Linked DNA regions of Homo sapiens: all the other regions are linked to region 4. Evidence: fine-mapped expression QTL. A gene starts in region 4. Each other region holds a variant in brackets. All regions are shown on one strand. Distances are between the middles of the regions.

Region 1 (5,104 bases), 45 kb before region 4:
TGTATACAGTAGCCTGGTGTTGGTGGTGACTTGGGGTCATGCATGAAGTGAGTGGGACTCACTTGAGGTCAACCTCAAAGACTGACCTTAAGAGTCGGGACTGAGGCTGGGTGCAGTGGCTCACACCTGTAATTCCGACACTTTGGGAGGCTATGGTGGGAGGATGGCTTGAGCCCAGGAGTTCAAGACCAGGCTGGACAAGGTGATGTGACCCTGTTTCTACAAAAAAAAAAAAAAAAAAAAAAAAAAAGCCAGGCATGGTGGTGCATGCCTGTAGTCACAGCTACTCCGGAGACTGAGGTGGGAGGATCACTTGAGCCTAGGAGTTCAAGGCTGCAGTGAGCTATGATCCCGCCACTGCACTCCAGTCTGGGCAACAGAGCAAGACTCTATCCCCACAAAAATTTTGTTTTAATTTTTAATTTTAATTTTTTGCATGTTCTCACTTATTTTTGGGATCTAAAAATCAAAACAAACTCATGGACATAGTAGGTAGTAGGGGGAAGGCGGGGGTTGGGTAATGGGTACAAAAATAGAAAGAATGAATAAGACATACTATTTGATAGCACAACAGGGTGACTCTAGTCAATAATATAAATTTTTAAAAATTATATATTTATTTATTTATTTATTTTAAAGAGTTGGGACTGAGCTGGAGCATAGGCCATAAGATTGCCTCTCAGGAGCAGAAGTGAGACTGTGAAAGTAAGAAAGCAGGGGTAGGGCTGGGTGGGATGAGGTGAGGGAGTGAAGGGCACATACCTAGGGGAGTTTCACTTTGCAAGGGTGTTCTAGATGCTGGGATTGTCTGCCTTCTGCAACCACAGAGGGCTAGCCAGAAACCAGGGAGCCTCCTTGTCTGTACTCTGATCCCATCCTTGGGCTTAGTTGATTAGTCCAGGTATGGGAACCTCTGACCTGGGCCATTAAGCCTCTTCCCTTGGTTTCTGTCTCTTAGACTTCAAGAATGCTTGAGGTCAGGCTGTCTCCCATGACTGAGGCAGTGAAAGGTAAAATTCATAGGATCTGTCCACAGCCATGCTTTCTGTCATGTGGGAAAAGCTAGCCGGGCATGGTGGCTCAAGCCTGTAATCTCAGCACTTTGGGAGGCCGAGGTGGGTGGATCACCTGAGGTCAGGAGTTCGAGACCAACTCAGCCAACATGGTGAAACCCTGTCTCTACCAAAAATATAAAAATTAGCCAGGTGTGGCAGCGGGCGCCTATAGTCCCAGCTACTTTGGGAGGCTGAGGCAGGAGAATCGCTTGAACCCGGGAGGTGGAGGTTGCAGTGACCCGAAATCATGCCGTTGCACTCCAGCCTGGGTGACAGAGTAAGACTCTGTGTCAAAAATAGTAATAATAGTAATAAAATTTAAAAATTAAAAGAAAAGAAAAGCTGCTGCAAGGAGAGGAAAGGAAGCTGACGTCTGAGAGGGATGCAGAGAGAAGAGACGATAACTGAGTCTTGGTGACTTTCAGGCCTCAGAGCTCCAGCTGCAGCTCTGCCCAGAGCACCCTTTTCCCTAAGCTGCTGAACTTTGGTCTCTGCCACTTGCATCCAAAGTGCCCAATGGACACCAAGCACCTCCTCCTCACCCCCTTCATCTGGTGAACCCCTCTGGCTGGAAGTGGGGAGCTTGAGTGAGGACAGAAGCAAGTGTCCATCCCAGAATTGGGGTCCCTCATTTCTTTCTCTTCACCGTGCTTAACATGATCCAAAATTACATGTATTTACTTAATTGCTTACGTGTTTACATTGATCACCCCTGCACCCCCCAAAAATGTAAAGTTCCATTTTGTCTTGTTTAACTTGGTATCCCTAGTGCCTGGCACATCATAGGTGCTCATGAGTCATTGAATGAACAAATGAATGTACAAAGAAGATGGCTTGAAATCAGACCACTGAGACCCCCAACGAGGTCACAATTGCAGGAGAAACATCTCAGTGCCAGGCACTGAGCCTGGGATGTTTGAAATTTCTGTGCCCAAGCTGTGTGCCCTTTGGGGCGTGTGTGTATGCTGGGTACAAGGCCAGATACACAATCAATGCTATAGAAACCACAGATAAAGGGCCAGGGAGCTGAGTGTGACAATGGGCTGTTGGGAGAAGTTCCATGCAGATTACAAAGGGTTCAGAAAGGACAGGGGCATTGAAAGGCAGCTGTAATTAGAAAGCATAGGCATTCAAAGCTGCCTGGAGGTCAGAGGGGCTGGGCTGGCAGGCTGGGGAGATCGGGCAGGAAATGGGCACGGAAGCCCTGCAGTTCAGGGCTGACATAATTGGACAGAGAGCGGCAGCCAGTTACCATGGTAACAGCCAATCCGAGTGGCCGCGTATGTGGCAAGGAGTCAAGGTTTCTAAAGAAGGGGCTAAAAATGCTGCCTTTGTTCCCACTTTGAGCGAGTTGCCATCAGATCCCTGTGGGGGTGACGTGGCATGGGGACAGAGCCAACAACTGCTAGCCACCATGGCTGGGAGGGAGCCACGTGAGGACCCAGGGGACTGGCTGGGGCTGGGGAAGCTAAATATGTCATTCCATGGAGCTGGCTGTGCCTCCCAACATAAAGCAGCGGCCAATGGCCTGGGATTCAGAGTCTGAGAGTCCAGGGCTCAGATTGCAGCGTGGCCTCTTAGCAGCTATGTGACCTCAGTTTCCTTACATACAAAATGGGACTACTAACACCTTTTTCGCAGGGCGGTTGTAAGGATGGAGAGAAGTGATGCATGTCACACATTCACTTAGTGAGTGGTAGATGCTGTTGTTGTTATTCTGACAGACAACAACAGCAGCTCCTCCAAAAGGCTCTTAGCTTCTGGGGAGTAAAAGGCAGGTTTTGCTTCTTCAGGAGTTTCTTTAGGGGTACCAAAAAGGCAGTTGATAGAAACTAAAAAACTCCAGGAGGTGACCAGCTAGACTAACCAAGTGGTATTTAAAAAGAAAACATTCTTTAGGCAGGCTTGAGAGCTGTGAGATATCAGAGAATCCTGCTCCTTTGTTCTTTTGTCCAATTTGTGGGCCTGGACAGGACACAAAGACAAGGCCATCCCTCCCCTCTCCTTCCACAGTGCGGAGAGAAAGCAGAGAAGATCCTGACATGAGTGCTTCCTGAGACTTTTTTTTTTA[AT/A]TTTTTTTTTTTTTTTTTTTTTTGAGACAGAGTCTCTCTCTGTCCCTCAAGCTGGAGTGCAGTGGCGCGATCTTGACTCACTGCAACCTCCACTTCCTGGGTTCAAGCAATTCTCCTGCCTCAGCCTCCCAGGTAGCTGGGATTACAGGTGCAGGCTGCCACGCCCAGCTAATTTTTTGTATTTTTAGTAAAGACGGGGTTTCATTATTTTGGCCAGGCCAGTCTCGAACTCCTGACCTCAGGTGATCCACCTGCCTCGGCCTCCCAAAGTGCCGGGATTACAGGCGTAAGCCACCACGCCCGGCCTTTTTTTTTTTCTTTAACTTTTAAGTTCAAGGGTGCATGTGCTGGTTTGTTGCATAGGTAAACATGTGTCATGGGGGTTTGTTGTTCAGATTATTTCATCACCCAGGTATTAAGCCTAGTACCTGTTAGTTATTTTTCCAGATCCTCTTCTTAAGATTTTCAAGTGAGGAAGTGAAATGAGGGTGGAAAGGCAGAGGAGGGTGCTTTGCTTAGAGACCAGGACAGGTCAGAGACAGGGCATAGGCACAGCTGTGGACTGACCACCCCCTGCCTCCCCAGCCAGAAGTGCCGGGAAATGCAGACATCCCTATTTGGACTCTGGTGCAGTCCTCTGTTGCTATGGCAACTCAGGGGCTCTGTGGTTGGTGGAAGAAGGCAGTGGCTGTGTGGAAATCGGCATTGGAGGCAGCAGCTGTGCCCTTTTGCTCCAGCAGTCTGGGTATTTCTGATGGGGGCAGGGTGGGGATACTCCCTCTGCCATCTCAGGAAGCCACACAGGAGACCCCTGGACTCCACGGCCAATGCCTCTGGCTCAGATCAGCTCCCACCCAGACTCCCTCACAGGGAGGAACCAGGCTTCTGTATGGAGTGGCAATTCCCTTGGCACCCCTACCTTGAGTATCTCCTCAGACCATATATTCCCCTGGGATTTCCTCTTCATTTTCCTCATTGATTCATTCATTCATTTGTTCATTCATTCAGCAAGTATATACCGCACAAAATGCTGGGCCAGAGCAGTGAAAAAGACAGACGAGGCTCCTGCCTTCAGGGAGCCTCCAGTTTAGTTGGGGAGAACACAGCACACAAATAAGTAGAAAGAGAGAGAGACTCAGATGCTAATAAACAGGCGACATGATCCAGAGAAATTAAGGCTGGACTGATTTAGAATGAATGGTCAGGAAAGGTCTTTCTGAAGTTGAGAAGGAGCTACAGGTGTTGGGAGTGGTCCAAGGAAGAGCAAGTGCAAAGGCTCAGAGCGGCGGGCCATGGCATTAGGGGCAGAGAAATGAGGGGGTCAGGGGCAGCAGCAGAAGCCAGGGCTGGAGAAAGGCGGGCTGGGATAAGCAGAGCCTTGTCATGGAGTCTGGTTTTCACTCTGAAGGCAATAGGAAGCACTGGTTGCCTTTAAGCACAAGAGGGGAGTGATCCCACTGATGCTTTTAAATGCTCCCTCTGCTAGCCTAGGGGACAATGGACTTCCTGCAGGAAGGCAAGAGTTGAAGCAGGGGACCCATGAGGAAACCACTGCGCTGGCCCAGGTGAGAGCTGAAGGGCTGCCTGTGCTGGTATGGATGGAGACAGAGGATTTGCAGGTAAGCCCAGCAGGACTTGCTGAGGGACCGAGGGTGGAGGACAAGGAAAAGGGGACTCAAGGATGACTCCCAGAGTCTGATTGAAACTTGGGTGAGTGGAGGTGCCATCTGTGAAGGGAGGGATGATAGCAGAGGCGGGGGAGAAATTGCACTGCATCTCAGCTCTGTTGGCCTGGATGACACATTCAAGTTATCCAAGAGCATCTTTCATTTTCACCATGAAATCCCTGAGAACTGAAGCATTTTATAAGCAACATTTCTAAAGTGTTAAGTCGAAAGGAAGCTTTCTTACAACACACTAACAGGGAAGAAAGTAATTATGTTAAAAGCTAACTGTTGGATGTCCTAGGTTGGTGGC
Region 2 (5,104 bases), 71 kb after region 4:
GTCATTATCTCTCCTGCTGACACTTTGCTTGTGGAAGGCTCATTGGTGTCACCAACCTCTTCCTGAATGGAAAAATGTTTCCAGTCTTTATTTTTTCCCCTCTTCATATAATAACGATGGACCAAAGGTGCTTCAACGCACCACTCACCTGACATTCACGGAGCATTGTCTGTGGGCCGCGTCCTCAGGCTAAGCGGACAGAAGGCAACCTTAAGGTGCTCACTGTCTAGTTTGGGAGGTGAGACGGGTGCCCACAAGAAACCGAGCAGAGGACAATGCAGCCCAAAAAGACTTGTAAAAATAAGCTCCAATATATTGTCTGGCCTGATAGCAATCTTTTATTGGTCACGTATTATGCACTTATCTTTAATATCTCTGGAAGACAGACAGACATTATCATTCTATATTTCAGATGAGGAAACTGAAGCTCAGATAGGTTACACAGTTTACCCCAGGCCACACAGCTCTTCAGTCTAGGAGACTGGTTCTGTCTGTATCAAAGCCCACTCTCCATTCAACCATGCTGCTCTGTTACCAGGCGGTAAAAGAAACAGTTTAGAGAAGGTGAGAGACAAGTTAGTTACTATCTACAAGGTATGTGTTACTTTTGAAATTTTAACTTTTCCATTTTTAGGTAATCATCAAAACAATGTGTTAGCAAGGTATTAAATGTATTGCAGCAGTTAAAAAAAATCTTTGGCAGGGCACAGTGGCTCACGCCTGTAATCCTAGCACTTTGGGAGGCCGAGGCGGGCGGATTATGTGAGGTCAGGAGTTCTAGACCAGCCTAGCCAGCATGGTGAAACCCTGTCTCTACTAAAATACAAAAATTAGCCAGGCATGGTGACACATACCTATAATCCCAGCTACTTGGGAGGCTGAGGCGAGAGGATCGCTTGAGCCTGGGAGGCGGAGGTTGCAGTAAGTTAAGATGGTGCCACTGCCCTCCAGCCTGGGCGACAGAGCGAGATTCTGTCTCAATTAAAAAAAAAAAGAAGCAGCAGCAAGGAAGGGAGCAGGCACCAGGCCCCATAAGGGCTGGCATAAGGGGAGGCCTCCCTGGCAGGTGCTGTGGCTTTGAAAGAGGGACACAGCCAGCCCAGGATGACTCCGCAGGGAAGGAGCTGGGAAAGTAACTCCCCAACTCCCCAACCTCACTCTGCTCTCTCCCTCCCCTCTCCTGCTGGTGCCTGAGTTCAGATCACTATACCTATGTTTCCCAAATGGTGAGATGGTTCCGGGAGGTTCATGGATAAAGATTTTTTTTTTTCTTTGAGATGGAGTCTCACTCTGTCGCCCAGGCCAGAGTGCAGTGGTGCGATCTCGGCTCACTGCAACCTCCACCTCCCGGTTTTAAGGGATTCTCCTGCCTCAGCCTCCACAGTAGCTGGGACTACAGGCGCCCACCACCACACCTCGCTAATTTTTGGATTTTTCGTGGAGACAGGGTTTCACTATATTGGCCAGGCTGGTTTTGAACTCCTGACCTTGTGATCCGCCTGCCTCGGCCTCCCAAAGTGCTGGGATTACAGGCATGAGCCACCGTGCCCGACCGGATAAAGATTTTTTAAAGTTTAATAATTATGTATTAAAATATACACGTGTCCATATCTATCAAGTGCTTCTATCTTCTTTATGTAATAAAATATTTACAAAATCTATTATTTCACAAGTGTTTATTTTTGGTACAAAGCTAAGCTACGTATTGAAGTTAAAGGTTGACTGGATTTGATGGACTGTGGTACGGGGCCTGGCAAAACTGCCTGGAGTTCAGGGAACCAGTGCTCCCAACAGACTCCACACTTGATCCTTTGATCTCTGACTTCACACATACACCATCCTTCCTGGGAGGTCAGGGGTTTTGGTCACCCACGGACACTTGTCCCTGATTTCTCAAGGTTACAGAGGGGGTTCCTAAGGCCTCATCCCAGAAACTCGTTCACCTCACCTGAGGAGCTAGGAGAGGAACCCTGCTTCTGTGTAGGCTCACTGAGTTACACCCCAAGTAAGAGTAGGCTGCCCCTAAGT[C/T]CTGCACTGCCCTGAAACCTGTCCCTGTGCTGAAAAATAATCCCACAGCAGAGCCAGCAGGGAGGAAGAAAGGGGAACCGGGACCCTGTGCCCACATTCTGGTCTCGGGGAAGCTCGGTAAGTACCACCCCCTTACTCCAGCCCCCATCTCCCAGAGGCATGTGGGGTCAGCCCAAAAGACAAGACACAAAGGGACTCTACCCAGAGATCAGTGGCCACTGGCTCGTCCCTCCCCTCTCACACCTGGGAAAAGATGAAGGCCCTTCTCCCTTCCCCCTTACAAGGAGTGGCACTGCCAGGAATCATTCTGTACAACAGGCCATTTAGCATTATCTCTGTGCTCTCCCCTGGGAGTGTCTGCTTCACCCAGAAAATGCCCCAGGGCACGTGCCTCTGTGCAGAGCAGCTGCAGGAGAAACCAGGGTACATTAGGCAAAGGCTCTATGCTATTATGATTTATCATGTATCTTATTATGTTACTCAGAGAAGTGGGTTGTCAAACTCTCGTTGAGAAGTGGCCATTTCTTTTGGAAAAGTTTGAATGGTAATTCCAGGTTTTAATCTTGGATCTACCAAAATTTGGGTAAACATTCCCTGTCCTCAACACCTTAGGTAGAAAAGTGTTGCCTGGGGTAGGCCTGGTTTACGCCTGTGACTTCTTTATTTTAAAAGAATTTTGGGCCGGCCATGTTGGCTCATGCCTGTAATCCAGCACTTCGGGAGGCTGAGGTAGGTAGATCGCTTGAGCCCAGGAGTTTGAGACCAGCCTGGGCAACGTAGCAAGACCCTGTTTCTACAAAAAATACAAAAACTAGCCAGCCGTGGTGGTACACGCCTGTAGTCCCAGCTACTTGGGAGGCTGAGGTGGGAGGATCACTTGAGCCCACAAGGTTGAGGCTGCAGTGAGCTACGATCGCATCACTGCACTCCACCCTGAGCAACAGTTGAGCGAGACTCCGTCTCAAAAAAAAAAAAAAAAGTATTTCAGAACAATAAATTATGGCTACCCTGCCCACAGGCACATGTGACCAATCTTCAGAAAGATTCTAGAATGTGGGGCTGGAAGAGATTTCCAAGGGTCTTTAATTCATTCTGTGGCTGGAAGGCAACAAGCAGACCCCACAACCCTGCTGTCCAGGAAGAGCCCCATGCCTGCCTCAGCCCAGCCCTCAGTCCAGCCCTTCACAGGTGTCTCCATGGTACAATTTCTCCTTCGTCTGCTTCTTCTCTCCTCTGCTCAGAATTCTCTGATGAGAGATGAGCAAACAGGAAAAGCTGGGACTGCAGGGGGAACAGCCTCCTGTTCCAGCAGCAAGGAGACCCTTGGACTTGAAGATAAGCCCAGGAGGTAACTTGTTCTCCTGGCTTCCTTGTGATAAAGGCAATAACTCTCTGAGGTGGAATCAGAAACGAAGAGAGGCGGCCAGTGAGTGTGGGTGACCCAAAGGGACCGCAGGGCGTGCAGGGCTGGTGCTGCAGGCCTTGTCTGCAGGCTCAGGGCCATGACCGCCCAGAACCAAATGGCCTTTACCCAGCTGAGCTTGCCTAGCTCCTCACTATCACAAAGGCTGCTGTAGGAGCCCCACCTGGCTCTCCCTGAGCTGGACCCCTGCCAGGGCTGCTTGCGGGGCTCTCAGCCTAATTCTAAGCTTCTTTCTGCTCCCCTCTCAACCAGAGCAGTCAGCTACTTCTTAGGGAGCAGACGGGACCAGAATGTCCTGGGGTTGGAAGGTTTGCTCTCTATTTTGTTATTCTGGGAATGATATGCTTGATTTTACTTAATTATAAGACATTTATTGAATTTCTGCCGAGTGGCAGGTAGCTGACTGTGCTAGGTGCTGGAGGTGCAAAGGTGAACTGATCCTGACTCTTCCCTGCAAGCACAGTGAGTTTGTGCCCTGATGCTCTGAACTACAGGCCAAGAATGGGAGCAGCGGTTCTGCCTCAGGCTGTGAGGAGGGCTGGGGAAGTCTTTAGAGGGGAGCAGACTTTAGGCAAAGCCTTGAAAGATAAGGGGAGTGATATGGTTTGGCTCTGTGTCCCCACCCAAATCTCATCTTGAATTGTAATCCCACATGTTAAGTGAGAGAGGGACCTCTAATCCCCATGTGACAAGGGAAGGAGGTGATTGAATCACGGGGGCAGTTTCTTTCATGCTATTCTCGTGATGGTGGGTGAGTTCTCACGAGATCTGATGGTTTTACAAGTGTTTGACAGTGTCTCCTTCACACACTTGCTCTCTCGCCTGCTCCATGTAAGACGTGACTGCTTCTCCTTCTGCCAGGATTCTAAATTTCCTGAGGCCTCCCCAGACCTGAAAAACTGTGAGTCAATTAAACATCTTTTCTTTATAAATTACCCAGTCCCGGCCAGGCACAGTGGCTCACACCTGTAATCCCAGCACTTTGGGAGGCCAAGGTGAGCAGATCACTTGGGGTCAGGAGTTCAAGACCAGCCTGGCCAACATGGTGAAACCCCATCTCTACTAAAAATACAAAAATTATCCGGGCGTTGTGGCGGCCGCCTGTAATTCCAGCTACTCAGGAGGCTGAGGCAGGATAATCGCTTGAACCTGAGAAGCAGAGGTTGCAGTGAGCCAAGGTTGCGCCACTGCACTCCAGCCTGGGCAACAGAGTGAGACTCCATCTCAAAAATAAATAAATAAATAACCCAGTCTGGGGCAGTTCTTTATAGCAGTGTGAAAATAGACTAATATAGGGAGCCTTTCCATGGTTGGCAAAGATAGGAAGGACTTTCCAGACCAAGGAAAATGCTTGAACAGATGTCTGGAGGTGTTGGAGGAATGGATACTGTTGGGTGAGATTGGAATGCAGGGAAAAGCTGGGGCAGGTTGGAGAGTCAGAGCTCAGAGGTGTGATGAGAAAGCCCTCTGGAGGCACACAGACTAGCTGCACAGCCTTGGGCAAGTCATTTCACTTCTCTCAGCTACAGTTTATTTATCTGTATAATGGGGATAATATAACCTACTTCATAAGATTGTTGTGAGAATTAAAAGATATATCAGATGTAAATCAGCCAGCATGGAGTCCGGCAAATACATGCTCACAAAATGTCA
Region 3 (5,083 bases), 93 kb before region 4:
CTTGGGAGGCGGGGATTCGAGTCTGGTTTGTGTGTGTGTGTGTGCAAGAGGAGGGAGACTTGAGGGGCGCCGGGTCGCCCCCAGGAATACAACCCCCTGGACCTTGGGGCTGGGGCCGGGGGGTTTTAGTGCAGGGGTTGAGCTGGGGGCAGGCAAAGCAGAATCGCTTCCTCAGTCTCCTAGGGTTGGGCCTGGCTCTGCCTTCAGTTTCTTTCTTTGTTTAGATGCCATTTATTTACCCAAGTATTAAAACTTGTGTTGTTTAAAGTACAATTGGGCTTTTTAATGTCCTTTTTTAAAGATCAAACTTTGCAGCATTATATAATAGAGAAAAAGGCAGGCCCCTGGTTTCCCCAACTCCCCACACCAAGATAACCATTGCTTAGTTTAAGAGTACATTCTGAATTGCTTTCTTTGAATATGCTTACACTGTTATTTTACATAAATGGGAACACATACACATGAGGCTTATATATATCAAGGCTCGGATATTTGACCTGCATTATTTCACTTAATCCTTATTAAGCTCCAGTGAGGTAGGTTTGCCGTTACTTTTTAACAGGTGGAGAAACTGACGCTTGGAGAGAAAAATTAACTTGGCCAGAGGCACAAGTGGTTTCCCTTGTGCCTTCAATTCAGGGGGATCTGTCCAAATCCAAAATCCATGCTTTTTACCGCTAGCGGGCACTGCCTCCCAGCTGGTATGACTGGATTTGGGACGCTTCCATATCAGAAAAAGAGATCCATCTTATTCTTTCCAGTCAACATTAGAGTGTTCCAGACTTCTAGGGACACTTGGGAACTTTCCATGCGGAGGCTGGAGGAAGGACTTGAGTGCTGGTCATCAGTAACATCTTCCATTACATAGGGTTTTGCCAGAGCTTTGTGCGCATTATTTCATAGAATCCCGCCCAATCGTCAGATATGATTACCGCCATTTTATTGATGTGGAAACTGGGGATCAAAGGCGTACAGAGACTTGTGATATATGACCTCATAGTCTGACATCCCGGACTTTAGTCAGTGCTAGGGAGCAGTGGTGAGACCTTCTGAATCAGCCTAGTTTTCCTCCAGCAGCAAAAGGCCAAAGGAATCCTGGCTTTATGCCCACGGGACAGGGCCTTCCTCAGTCAGCCGGGTGGCCACGTTCTGCAATTCTGCTGAATCTGCTCACTGTGGACAGCCCCAGGCGCTCACCCAGCCCTTGGGCCCAACTGCAGCTCCAGACCAGCTTGCTAGGGGTAGGCTTCATCTGGTGAGGCCCTGATGAGACCAGATGGTGGAGCTGATACCTTTACAGTGTGGGGGACTTGCTCTTTGCCTCAGTGTTATTTTGTTTTGTTTTGTTTTGTTTTCCAAATCCTGAGAGGCTGTGAATGGCTCGGTGTTGGTGTAGTTTTTGTTTATTTTTAAATTCAGTCAGAAATCTTTTTTTTTTTTTTTTTGAGATGGAGTCTCGCTCTGTTGCCCAGGCTGGAGTACAGTGGTGTGATCTCTGCTCACTGCAACCTCCGCCTCCCGGGTTCAAGCAGTTCTCCTGCCTCAGCCTCCCGGGTAGCTGGGATTACAGATGCCCACCACCATGCCCAGCTAATTTTTGTACTTTTAATAGAGATGGGGTTTCACCATGCTGGCCAGGCTAGTCGTGAACTCCTGACCTCAGGTGATCTGCCCGCCTTGGCCTCCTAAAGTGCTGGGATTACAGGCATGAGCCACCGCCCCCAGCCAGAAATGTTGTCTCAGCTTGAGGACTGCAGATGTTTCACAATGAAGCTCCAACTCCAATCTCCGATCACGTCTGATAACATGGGCCAGGTCTGCAGCATCTGCATCCAGACCTTTCCAGGAGGAGAGTGACTGACTTCTGGTGACTAAGCCCATTTCCCCTGAGTTACCCCTTCTGCAGGGAACCAGTGCAGGGTCTCTGCGAAGCCTGGAGGCTCTTGGATCAGCGTGGGGACTAATCGGAAAGACCTGCATTTCAATTCTGGTCTGGCTAATTTCTGGTTATTTAGTGAGTAATTCAAGCAAATGACTCAACTTCTCCAGGTCTCAGTTTTCTTACCTGAAACATAAGAATTGAGTGGAAATTAAGTAATACTGCCCTCGTGTGGCTGTTGTGACTATTAAATGAAATATTAGCATAGCATGGCATTCACAGCCAGCTGTTATTACTTACCCCTTATTTCCTCCTAACCCTCCTTACAGCCCACTCTCTAACCATACTGAAATGCTCTCTAGCCCTAACCTCCTGACTCCCTGTACTCCTCCTACTCCACATCTGTGTTTAAACTATTACCCACACCTATCCTCCCATCCTCTTGTCTTGGAACTAAAGTTGCCAAATTAAAAGAATTGTGAGTTTATCCATGCAATGGAACACTCTGCAACTCTTGTATGGTCAGATATTTTTATACCTTCTAATGCACCCTTGCTTTGGGCAAACAACCTGACCAGATGTTACCTCCCAAATTCTGCTCAATTCATAGAGTTTGTGTGGTGCTGGCCCTACCCTTTGACTTAGGAGCAAACCAATTAGAGACTCCATGGCTCTGGCCATGATTAGTTCAAGGCCAGGCAGGCATGGAAGACACTAACCCAGCAGCCATTCAGAGACTCCTTCTCCCTTGCTGCTTCCCACTGGAGAAACTGGAAAGTCAACGACTCTCACAGCTTCTCCCACAGCTACGGGGTGGCCAAGTAACTTC[A/C]TTCTGCCCAATGAGGGAGGAGGATGGCTTCTGGTTAGATATTTTACTTCCTGAGAAAAGTGCTGTGCTTGAGAAACAAACTGGCGGTTTCTGGTTCCTTCCCTTTCCTTCCTGCCTTGAAGGCAGTTGTGATGACTGAAGCTGGGGAGGCCACGTTGTAACTGTGAGGCACCAAGCATAAGGATAGAGTGGAGGAGGGAAAACACTTATGTCCTTGATATCTGACTAGTGCTGGGACCTCCTACTTCTGGACTTCTTCTAAGTAAATGGTAAATGTCCTTATGGCTTAAACTTTAAATCATTGTTAGGAGAATTTCCTGTGACTTGAAATTGAAAACATGACTCACTGCTAGAGCAGGTGATTCAGATCTTCCTTAGGGTTTATGCCACTACTGGGGGAAAATACACTTCTCCTGAGATCTTGAGCCGTAAAACAGAGGAAAGCTTAGAGCTACAGAAAGGTACAACAAATAGAAGAGAGACACAGAACTCTGATGACATCATTTGAGCCCCCTAGAATAGCATGTCTGAAGCCAAATATACCCTTTTGGGTTTCGTGGTTGAGTGAGTGAATGAGTGAATACATAATTAAATATCATTTTCCCCTGAAGCTAGTTAGAGGAAATTCTGGAAGGATATTTTATTAGTTATCTATTGCTGTGTAACAGATTACCCCAAAACTTAGTGGCTTAAAACAACAATAATGACTTATTTCTCACAGTTTCTGTGGGCTAGAAATTCAGACAGGATACAGTGGCGATGATATCTTGCCCCTCAACTGAAAGACTCAAATTCTGGGGCTGGAATCGTATGAAAGCTCATTGACTCACATGTCTTGACAACAGGTGCTCACTGTCAGTGGAACACTCACACATGGCTCTCCTTGTTGCCTGGGCTTCCTCACAACATAGCGGTGGGTTCCAAGGGCAAGCGTATCAAGAGACAAAGATGGGCTAAGGCTGTATCCTTCTTCTGACCTAGTCTCAGAAGTCATATAGCATCACTTCTGCTGAGCTCTGTGGGTTGGAGAAATCACAAGCCCCTATCCAGATTTAAAAAGAGAAAACATAGACCCCCATCTCTCTGTGTAAGAAGTTCAGTAATATTATAAGAAGAGCATGTTGGACGGGATACATGTACAAGTATGGCCATGTTTAAAAAATACAATCTGCCACAGACACACACTAACTTGTTATTAAGATGTGATCTGGCCAGGAGTGGTGGGTCACACCTGTAATCCCAACACTTTGGGAGGCAGAGGCGGGCAGATCACTTGAACCCAGGAGTTTAAGACCAGCCTGGCCAACATGGTAAAACCCTGTCTCCACTAAAAATACAAAAATTACCCGGGTGTGGTGGCACGTGCCTGTAATCCTAGCTACTCAGGAGGCTGACGCGTGAGAATCGCTTGAACCTGGGAGGTGAAGGTTGCAGTAAGCTGAGATCGCACCACTGCACTGCAGCCTGGGTGACAGAGCAAGACTCTGTCTCAAACAAAACCCCCTGCCCCATTTGGCAAAAAAAAAAAAAAAAAAAAAAAAAATTTAATAAAAAGATTTGATCAAAGTAATTGACCATCTACTCTGTGCTGGTCACTGTGCTAAAAGTTTTTAAAGCATCGTCTCATTGACTCATCATATTTTTTCAAAGTGGGTGCTGCGGGTTGGATACATTCTGCCTAATATTTGTATGAAATGAATGATTTTGTCTTGAAGGAAAAACAACAACAAAACCTTGAAAACTTAATGAATCTTATGCTTCCATCCAAGCCAAGTAAATTGCCACCTGCCCTGCAGTCTTCTTTTTCATTCATTTATAAAATATTTATTGAGCCTTTACCATGTGCCCAGCACTATTTTAGGTTCTGGGGACACAACAATGAACAAAGCAAAGTCCATACCCTTGTGGACCTCCAGGCTCTAGGAATTACATTTTTATGAATTTTAGTAACTCGGTGTGACAGCCAGCCTCCAAGACGGCTCCTAGTGATTCACACGCTTATGTAGTCCCATTCCACAGTGGATGGGGTGACCTGTGTAACCCAACAGGATAGTGCAGAAATGATGGGTGTGTCTTCTAGGGTTAGGTCATAAAAGCCATTGCAGCTTCTTCTTTGTTTTCTCTCTGGGATCACCTTCTCAGTGATGTCAGCTGCTCCATTTCCACACTGGAGCAGCCTTATGGAAAAGCCCAGGTGGCGAGGAAACAAGACAACAGCCATGGGAGCCATCTTGGAAGCAGATCCTCCAGTCCCAGTCAAGACTGCAAATGACTGCAACCCTGGCCAGTAGCCTCACTGAAATCTCATGAGAGACCCTTAACCACAACCACAACCACAACCACTCAACTAAGTCATTCTTGATTTCTTGACCCAC
Region 4 (5,104 bases):
CAAGAAAAAAAAGACCAAAATCTTTACCGTGACTACAAAACATTTTGGTTGAGGACATAGGAAAAGGAGATTAGAAGTTGGAGATCAATTTTCTTTTACTTTCAATGCAAAATATTTCTATGATAAAGCCTGTTATTTATATTATGATAAATATTTGTGTCCACATGCAGGGAGTATATAGATATTGAGGGAGAAAGTAATTTAGGAAAGAAATAGAAGGGTAGCAACATCTTTTCCACAAAAGCCACAGCACTGCAGACATGCATAAAGATTGCAGTTGTTGCTCCAATAGCCTTATGTGGTAGGCCGACAAATTCTTTTTTCTTTTTCTTTTTTTTTTTCAGAGATTGTGTCTCACTATGTTGCCCAGGTTGGTCTCGAACTCCTGGCTCCTGGGCTCACGTGATCCTCGAGTCTCAGGCTCTCAAAGTGCTGAGATTACAGATGTGAGCCACTGTGCCCAGTGGACATTCTTTTTTATTCTTTCTTACACGTAAATGTAGACAATCTGGACAAAGAAGTCTGGATTTCTACTTTCCACTGCTGACATTTTAAAAAATTTCAAATTAGATTTTTGCACCCTTTATACAAGACTACATGGCAGGACATTATGTTTGATTCACTGTACCTGATTACATTTAAATGTTGTTTTTCTGGATTATAAACAACAACTGAGGGACAGAGTAAGGAGGCTCTAAATAGACTTGAGAGCTTGGAATGTTGCTACATTTGTTCGCTCTCCCAGCATGTTAATATGTGAGACTAATACTTGGAAATAGCGACAGATATAGAGGAGTTTGGATGCTGAGAGAGAACTCAAAGTGAAGATGGTAAACATCTAGAGTTTTTATTGATTACAATTTTCTCATATATACAGAAACCTCAGGGTGTGTTCTAAACACAGTTCTCTTTTAAAATACATAATTAACTAAACTTCAAAATTAGAAGCTAAGACAATAATCATATTAATATAACCTCTACACTGCCAACTTGGAAAGGCAATGAAGAAGAAATGGGAATTGCAACAAGCTTCAGAGATGGAAGATTTTGTTTTTCTCTGTAGGACATGTGGGTAGAAGCAATTGCAGATGGCTGGGTGTGAAAGAAACAGACCTTGCAAGCCTGCTATATAGCTATACTGTGCTACATGGCATTGGGAGGTAATAAGATTTAAAAGACAAATACTCTTGTCTTCACAAAGCTTATAATTTAGTTGTGCAATACTGGGTAAGAAAGCTGGCTTAATGGAGTTGTATTCCAGCTTCACCCCTTAGTAGCTCTGTGTCATTGGGTGAGATATTTAATTTCTTTGGGCATAACTTCCTCATCTGTGAAACACTGATAATTGTATCTCCTATATGGCAGCTATGCCAGCCTCCTTTCTGTTCTTCCACAAGACAATCTCTCTCTGGACCGCCCTTTGCACCTGTTCCTGTGGTCGGGAAAGCCTTTAGCATGGCCAAACCCTTCAAGTTTTGACTTCATGTCACCGAGTCAGGGAGCTTTTTTGGAAAATATTGTTTCCGATTCCGCAGATGAGGCTGTTAAAATACTAAAGGATGGCATAAACATGAGGATGCTATTATAATCATCCACCCTAAGTAGGATTTGAGATCCAAGCAGTTCTCAAGGATTTAGGGTTAGCAAACTTTTTCTGTAAAATGTCAGATAGCAAGTATTATAGGGTTTGCAGGCCATACCAAACAAATGGGTGCTGCTGTGTTCCAATAAAACTTTATTTATGGACACTGAAACTTGAATTTCATGTACTTTTCACAGTCATGGTGGCAGACCGGATTTGGCCCCCTCCCTGTCGCTGGCTGACCCCTGGTTTATGAGTACGGCAGATAAAAGAAGGGAGTGAATAAGAACCACGATTCTGCTGCCAGACACGAGGGATCAGGTCGCTGCTGTGAAGATTGTCAACCTCTCTGGTTGCCAACGACCTCGAGAATGGGGTTGTGGTCCCTGCGTCAGGGCGGTTGTGCTGAAGGCTGGATGAGGGCACGTAGGTGAAGCTCAGTGCTTGGCACGAGGTGCTCATCAGCAGCATCGCCCTTGCTTTGGGCTGGCCTGTTAGTAATTCGTTTTTAGTGGAATCGAATACAACACTTGAGCCTCGGAGGCTCAGGTCGTCGGAGCAACTACACCAGGGCCGGTGCACCTCGGGGCGGCGGCGCAGGACTAGGCTAGGCCGGGCCGGGCCGGGCAGGGCGGCGCGAGTCGGGGGTGGGGCGGCGGCGCAGCGCCGTCGTCGTAGTCCCCGCCTCTTCCCCAGGGGCCGCGTCGGAGCCTCGGCGGCGGCGGCGGTGCTTACAGCCTGAGAAGAGCGTCTCGCCCGGGAGCGGCGGCGGCCATCGAGACCCACCCAAGGCGCGTCCCCCTCGGCCTCCCAGCGCTCCCAAGCCGCAGCGGCCGCGCCCCTTCAGCTAGCTCGCTCGCTCGCTCTGCTTCCCTGCTGCCGGCTGCGCCATGGCGTTGGCGTTGGCGGCGCTGGCGGCGGTCGAGCCGGCCTGCGGCAGCCGGTACCAGCAGGTAAGCGGCGCCCGACTCCAGCCCCGAACTCCGGTCCCTGGCTCTGCCCTGCCCGCTGGCCGCCTCAGGCCTCTCTGGCCGGCCCGCGGCCAACTCGACGCCGGGGCTTGGCAGGCCGCGCTGGGCCTGGAGGGGCGGGTCGGGCCCCGGGCTCGGATTCGAGGCTGCCACGGGCCCGGCCTGCCCGTCTGCGACCCCAGGTGGGACTCCGGCGGTGGAAAGTCCTCCTCCCGGCCTCGTTTCCCGCATTTCCCAGGGCGGGCGGGTCCCTGAGTCAGAACCCGCGACCCACAGGCGGCATCGATCTGAGGCATTCGTTTTTCATTTTTCCACCTTTGGTTTGATGTCATTGGAAAAGAAAGAAAGAAAAAAGCATGAAACGGAAACTGGGTGGAGAGAAAAGATTAAAATCTCTGCTGCTGCCGATAGCTCCCCACAGCAAGATGCTATTGCTCAGGGTTTCAGAGCCTAGTTTGTCGAAACCCATCCCCCTCGCCTCCGTTTTAAGACAAAAGTAAAAAATGAAGCAAGAGACAAGCCCGCAGTTTGCAGTAGATTTGGAAGAGGCGATGTTTGGCTGTGGTGATGCCCCAAAAGGGAGAGCTACGATGAAGTCTGCAGGGCGTGTGCCGGGTGTATTTTAAATGCTTGGAAGTGACGTTTTAAGAGATTTGATGGCATAGCTGGGGAGGAAATGTATAGGAAATGATTGGATCATTTTCTCGGGTTTGATTTAATACATTGAGGCCCCAGGGAAAAGAGCTGCTTGTTTCACTCCGCGTCTGTAGCTAAGTTCCCCCAGGAAATTTAGAGACCTTCTGCAGGGTTTTTGGAAGTGTTAATCTAACATACAGTAATGGTGGGAATTGAGCCAGGTGGTAAACTGATGTTGATTGGAACCGCAAATAACGGCTTGTGTTTGTCATGTTTCAGATGCTTTCGGTGCATACAGATGTCAATCCTCCTTTTATCAAATAAAATGTCCTATCTTAGACGATCTACAATTTTATATTTTAGAAGTAAGGAAAGCCAGCCAGTACGATGAAAACGTAGATTAACCCTGGTGCGGCCGGCCGGTTACTGGTTTGTTTTGCTATCATCAGCCATGTGTTGCAATCCGTCCCCACTCAGGCTTGGACTCCCAAAATGACTAGTTAAGAATTTCACTTCTTGGTTTTATAAACACGGCCCAAATTGTGGCAATGCAGTTAATCCTTAGATCTCTTCAGAGCACATGGATCTAGCACATGCTTTTTTTCTATGACCTTGGGCAGCCTGCGGGTTCCTTACTGCTTTAATAAAATGGGAATAACAGATGCCACTTAACTGTCACCACAGTGTTTGCAAATCACCCCTACTGTATACTGTCATCTGATTTCATCCTTTTCATCCTGACTTGGATAAGGCTAACGAGCAAAAGAGCTGTGGTTTTTCTTTGTACTGCCATCTTCTTGAGCTATTAGGTAATGCTGACATACTGCTAGAATATAAAAAATTTGCTGGAGTATCAAAATCATGTATTCCTTAGTGTGGCATTTAATATTTTTTAATTATGCAGAATTGAAGTATAAAAAAAAGAGAAAAAAATCTTCCTAGAAAAATTGTAAAAGATGAAAGCCCAAAAAACTGCAAAACCCTCCCTAAACAAAAACCAAATAGATAACCAAAGGTAATATTTTAATGTGCATTCTTGTGGGTTTATAGCTATGTAAATATACATAGTTATAGATCAGTATATGTGTGTACAGATAAGGAATGCAGGAAAGCTAATATTGATTTTTTTATGCAACAATCACAGTATTAAGTAATTTACATCCATTTTTTTTTTCTTTTAATTCATACCAAACCCTTATGAACCAGGGTTTGTTCTCATTGTCAAAGACTCAAAGTGGCTCAGTAACTTGCCTCAAGGTCACAGGCTGCTAAGTAGTGATTATAAGGATATACACACACTCACCTACTTAAAACACAGGCTCACAGTCCAGATATAGGTGTATGCATTAGCAGATATATACACATGCATATGTATTCTCTTATGTACCCATATATACGTATACAGACATATCTTTGTACATTTGTGTGCAGTTTTATGAGCCCCGATCATACTTGCACATACTTTTGCACGTGTCCATGTGTATCTTGTTCTCAGACATGTGCATTCATACATTTGCACATGTGTATCATGCACATGTATCTACAAAGGCATGCTAGATAAATAATGAAATAGGTTCATAATTCTATTTTGTAATGTTCTTCACACAATGTTATTAATGTCTTCTATATAAAATATTTTTAATGTCTGCATGGCATGTAATTGTATGGCTGAATCATAATTTAACTAATTGCTTATCTTTGGTCACTAAGAATGTTTACAGTTTTTTTCATTGAAATTTATTTCACATACGTCTTCAACCGTTTCCTTAGCATAAATTACTAGCCATGGAAATGCCTGGTCAGCGAATATGCATTTTTAAAAGGCTTTTGAATTATAGAATGATGGTGAATTGTCCAGGCAACTTGATAGGAGCATGATACTCTTTGGTTGTCACACAGGGCTGTTCTGACTTCT
Region 5 (5,104 bases), 43 kb after region 4:
AGGAGATCAAGACCATCCTGGCTAACACAGTGAAACCCCGTCTCTACTAAAAATACAAAAAATCAGCTGGGTGTGGTGGCGGGCGCCTGTAGTCCCAGCTACTCGGGAGGCTGAGGCAGGAGAACAGCATGAACCCGGGGGGCGGAGCTTGCAGTGAGCCGAAATTGTGCCACTGCACTCCAGCCTGGGTGATAGAGCGGGACTCCGTCTCAAAAAAAAAAAAAAAAAAAATATATAGAAACTGATAAAACAAATTATTTATGTTTATAATGAGTCTGGCCTCATTGCAAAAACATTCATTTAATATTCATCTGCCAATTTTCTTTTTTGCTTCTGCTTGGCTTTTAGAGTTCCTCATATTTTTGTGTCTCTGTCTCTGTGCTTTCCGAGGTCTTTCAATCTCTTATGTCTCTCAATCTAAAGAAAAGATGTCCTTGTATCAGTTTCAGTGGTTTACTTCAAATCACAACACAAATGAATTTATAGTTTGGAAAAATGTTGATAATATTAAAATATGTTCATTTCCTCCAGTGTGTTTGTAGTCTCTCTCCATTTTGGCAGCCTTTTAAATACTTACGCAGTAATCTAATCAGAAAAGATACAGAAGACACCGGGCATAGTGGTGCACGCCTGTTAGTGCCAGTCACTTGCGGGGCTGAGGCAGAAGGTTGGCTTGAGCCCTGGAGGTGTAGGTTGCAGTGAGCCGAGCTCGCGCCACTGCACTCCAGCCTGAGTGACAGACTCTTGTCTCCAAAAAAAAAAAAAAGAAAAGAAAAGAAAGAAAAGACATAGAAGAGTTTCTTGTGGCTTTTATAGTAATTTGGAGGATAGAAAAGTAAGTTATAGGCCGATATTTGAGCCCATCCAACTCTCACTTCTTGCTGAGTACCACAAAATAGTTTCTCAATAAATGTTTATTAAGCAGTAAATGTATCTCTTTAGTGTTTCTTCTTTTATTCTTAATAGTTCTTCTTTTATTGTTAATATAGGGAATTACTTGTAGTTTTTCCCAAGTTATTTTCATGAGAACCAAAACAATATACTAGTACAGAAATGCCTCAAAGTATTAGATGAAAACTGCATTTAGTAAAATGCGTAGGCATTATTTCGAGAGCATTTATTTCAGTCAGATATATTCCTTTCTTAAAATTTAGTTTGAAAGTACATGTATTATTTTAAGAGAAACATGCCCCAAATACAATGACTTTTTAGGAAAACTTGTTTTTTAAAAGTATTTGTGGTACCTGTGAGTTTATCCTTGTTTTCTAATTTTGCCATGCTCGGTTGAGGTATAGCATGACATGGTTGGCATCCTTACTGGAAAGCTTCCTTGTGCAATATCTAGTGGAATTGTTAGGGTAAACAGTATCTTCAGGTATATTAGGAAAATTACTTGTGCACTTGGATTATGCTCTCTGTCCCAAGTTTCAGTCATTGCTGACAGCGTTCAGTGTGGGATGCGCAGTAGCACTGCTTCCATTGTATTCTTTTGTTAAGAGGTTTGGAAAGAGAGACTCCTGACTTCAGGAGTTTTTAGAAAAAGCATTCCAGTTTTTTCTAGTTCTAGAGGCCTTGATAACTTTAAGAACTGAAATTTTAATGTTTATTGAATACCGTGATGTCAGTATACAGTAATCTTAAAACTATGTTAAAATGCACTTGTGTCTCCAAACATCCTGCCTTCTTTTGTGACTACATCCTTCTCTTAGCCAAAATAACAAGCTAACTAGAGTTTCAATATTCAATATCCTTCTCTGGCAGATGTTTTCTGGCAAAGGCCTTCCTGCATTTATGAATTCTCTCTCAAGAAGCAAGAGAACACCTGCAGGAAGTGAATCAAGATGCAGAACACAGAGGAATAATCACCTGCTTTAAAAAAATAAAGTACTGTTGAAAAGATCATTTCTCTCTATTTGTTCCTAGGTGTAAAATTTTAATAGTTAATGCAGAATTCTGTAATCATTGAATCATTAGTGGTTAATGTTTGAAAAAGCTCTTGCAATCAAGTCTGTGATGTATTAATAATGCCTTATATATTGTTTGTAGTCATTTTAAGTAGCATGAGCCATGTCCCTGTAGTCGGTAGGGGGCAGTCTTGCTTTATTCATCCTCCATCTCAAAATGAACTTGGAATTAAATATTGTAAGATATGTATAATGCTGGCCATTTTAAAGGGGTTTTCTCAAAAGTTAAACTTTTGCTATGACTGTGTTTTTGCACATAATCCATATTTGCTGTTCAAGTTAATCTAGAAATTTATTCAATTCTGTATGAACACCTGGAAGCAAAATCATAGTGCAAAAATACATTTAAGGTGTGGTCAAAAATAAGTCTTTAATTGGTAAATAATAAGCATTAATTTTTTATAGCCTGTATTCACAATTCTGCGGTACCTTATTGTACCTAAGGGATTCTAAAGGTGTTGTCACTGTATAAAACAGAAAGCACTAGGATACAAATGAAGCTTAATTACTAAAATGTAATTCTTGACACTCTTTCTATAATTAGCGTTCT[TCACCCCCACCCC/T]CACCCCCACCCCCCTTATTTTCCTTTTGTCTCCTGGTGATTAGGCCAAAGTCTGGGAGTAAGGAGAGGATTAGGTACTTAGGAGCAAAGAAAGAAGTAGCTTGGAACTTTTGAGATGATCCCTAACATACTGTACTACTTGCTTTTACAATGTGTTAGCAGAAACCAGTGGGTTATAATGTAGAATGATGTGCTTTCTGCCCAAGTGGTAATTCATCTTGGTTTGCTATGTTAAAACTGTAAATACAACAGAACATTAATAAATATCTCTTGTGTAGCACCTTTTACTGTAGATTAGTGCTTAATTTCTTGGCTTGCATTTGTTGATTGCTAAGGCAATTTTTTCTAATCTTAGGGAATCATTCAGTAGATGCGATTAAAAAACTAATGTTGGGTCAATTTTTTTCTTCATTTTCAGCACAAGAAGTCCTCTTATATCCTACTAAATACATTCCTAAAAATGTATTTGAACATTGGTTCTGTAAAAGATAATGGACTAAAAAAGTAGAGAGGAGTTGTAGAGATCTTAAATCATTCTGGAATTCCTAATTATGCTTCAATTTTTAGACATAATTTTAGATAATTTATTTCCAGTGTTTTCTGCATGTTCTCATTTGTTCTTTTTCTCAGTTGAATGCACCAACTGGTTTGAGTCCTGTGAGCATTCAGTCAGTTGAAATTAAAGATTCCTCATTTCTCCTGATTTCTATTCTTGTCTCAATCTTAAATTTAGAGACCAGTTGTTTTTATGATATCAGCCATTTGATTTTTTTCATTTTCTATTTAAGAAATATGAAGAAAAAATACACCAAGATGGTCAAATTACTACACAAATCAGCACCAGCACAGTCTGATAGCTGCAAATGTCCATTCATCTGCTGTGTATGTATATCCAGAATCAGCATAGGAAGTCGTTCAGGATATCAGTATATAATGCACAGAAGTGTGGGTTGTTTGAAAGCCAAACAGGAAAATTAGGAGCCTCCTGGATTGACATTTCAATGATCCCTCTAACCAGTTTATGGATTATTATGAATAATAGTGTAGTGTGTTCTTTTTCAGAAGTTATATTTGATAATAGAGAAGGGAGTTTTATGGAAGTTTCTTTGAAGATTTTTTTTTTTCCATTTCGAATCAGATTATAGCAACAATGGAGTTTGGAAGTTTGTATGGCCTATAATGTTCTAAGTTCCAGAATGAAAAGATCTGTAACAATCTGAATAGATGTGGACACATATAGCAGAGAGAACTATGTAAATTATCTTGCAGAACAAAATAGAAGGGTCCTAAATCACGTTAACTCAAACATTGTAGACTAGCTTTGTGTTTATTCTTCAGGTCCTTGCGCCTTATTTGGTTTTGTATATTCAACGAACTGAAATATTTGGAATTCCTATTTCTACGTATTTGGTGGTCCATAAGACTTTGTCAAATGTAAACCTACAGTTTGATACGCTTTAAAATACCTAGTTAAGAGGATGATTTCTCTTTAATCGTTTAAATGTTCTGAAAATTAAAATCTTTTGAGGCACATGAAGTGGGCACCATATATCATCTAGAGTCCTTACTGGTATTCAGGATGAAAATGTTCACGCTGCATTAATTGTCATTTTTCTCTCCCATGTTCTTTCTCACTTTGATACGTTAATACTGATAATGGATAAAGAGTGAGTTTTTATAATAAATGGTTTTGGAAAGGTATTCATAGGAACCGCGGTTATTTACTTAAGGTTATGGAGTAAACTAGCTTGGACCTTGGGCTGCAGGACGACTAGGATTCACCCATAACGACACAGTGCCCTATGTTTCTTAACTTCTTGTTGCCATTTGAAACTCTGTACTCTTATGTTTAAAGGGTTCTGTATAGCCATTTTTTTTTTCAGAAAGTTACATTGCTTTGTATAGAAATAAAAGGCATTATTAAAATTTGCTTGTTAAAAAATGATAAGAATGAATATCTTTACTTATAGGGTCAATTTTGTTTAGAGTTTTAAAGAAACAACAGAAGTTTTAGTGAAGTAAATGATTTTTTTTTTCCCTTTGCTTTCTTATTACATACTGACTTGAGCTCTGGCCCACCGTGAGTCATTATTAGTACAGATGAAATTTTGTTTGGTCTTCACTATGTGTTTTTTGTTTGTTTGTTTTTTGAGACGGAGTCTCGCCCTGTCGCCCAGGCTGGAATGCAGTGTTGCGATCTCCACTCACTGCAACCTCCGCCTCCCAGGTTCAAGCGATTCTCCTGCCCCAGCCTCCCAAGTAGCTGGGATTACAGGCGCGCGCCACTACGCCCAGCTAATTTTTATATTTTTAGTAGAGACGGGGTTTCACTATGTTGGTCAGGCTGGTCTCGAGCTCTTGACCTCGTGATCCGCCCGCCTCGGCCTCCCAAAGTGCTGGGATTACAGGTGTGAGCCACCGCACCCAGCCTTCACTGTGTTCTTATACTAAAATATACTCTACTTAGCTATAAATGGTTTACATTCAAAGGAAGAAGTAAGATAACTACTGAAGTAGAGTATCAGGACCAATAGAAGTGATATTTCAATTTGAGTGATTGCCTGAGGGGGTAAGATTC

The links. PIP is the estimated chance that this variant, and not a neighbour inherited with it, causes the effect.
Region 1: its variant is fine-mapped to the expression of NDFIP1 in whole blood (INTERVAL, PIP 0.99).
Region 2: its variant is fine-mapped to the expression of NDFIP1 in whole blood (TOPMed, PIP 0.98).
Region 3: its variant is fine-mapped to the expression of NDFIP1 in whole blood (TOPMed, PIP above 0.99).
Region 5: its variant is fine-mapped to the expression of NDFIP1 in whole blood (TOPMed, PIP above 0.99).

What each region holds. Positions count from the first base shown.
Region 1 is chr5:142,061,729-142,066,832 of GRCh38, forward strand. No RefSeq gene overlaps it. Among named protein-coding and RNA genes, the nearest start is that of NDFIP1, 44 kb to the right of the region's middle. The variant AT/A (reference allele first, on the strand shown) is at 3,127.
Region 2 is chr5:142,177,793-142,182,896 of GRCh38, forward strand. All of the region lies in intron 1 of LOC107986455 (a long non-coding RNA gene), which reads right to left. Among named protein-coding and RNA genes, the nearest start is that of NDFIP1, 72 kb to the left of the region's middle. RefSeq lists an enhancer at 3,033-3,551 and a silencer at 3,778-3,978. The variant C/T (reference allele first, on the strand shown) is at 2,029.
Region 3 is chr5:142,013,221-142,018,303 of GRCh38, forward strand. No RefSeq gene overlaps it. Among named protein-coding and RNA genes, the nearest start is that of GNPDA1, 2.7 kb to the left of the region's middle. RefSeq lists a cis regulatory region at 1,074-1,346 and an enhancer at 4,899-4,958. The variant A/C (reference allele first, on the strand shown) is at 2,709.
Region 4 is chr5:142,106,503-142,111,606 of GRCh38, forward strand. It overlaps NDFIP1 (Nedd4 family interacting protein 1), which reads left to right and starts at 2,277. Exons shown (of 8, transcript NM_030571.4): 1 at 2,277-2,535. The coding sequence starts at 2,473. RefSeq lists an enhancer at 2,028-2,529 and silencers at 2,107-2,376, 2,437-2,566, 2,637-2,706.
Region 5 is chr5:142,149,970-142,155,073 of GRCh38, forward strand. It overlaps NDFIP1 (Nedd4 family interacting protein 1), which reads left to right. Exons shown (of 8, transcript NM_030571.4): 8 at 1,762-4,471. It overlaps LOC107986455 (a long non-coding RNA gene), which reads right to left. Exons shown (of 3, transcript XR_001742907.3): 3 at 4,442-5,104. Among named protein-coding and RNA genes, the nearest start is that of NDFIP1, 44 kb to the left of the region's middle. The variant TCACCCCCACCCC/T (reference allele first, on the strand shown) is at 2,515.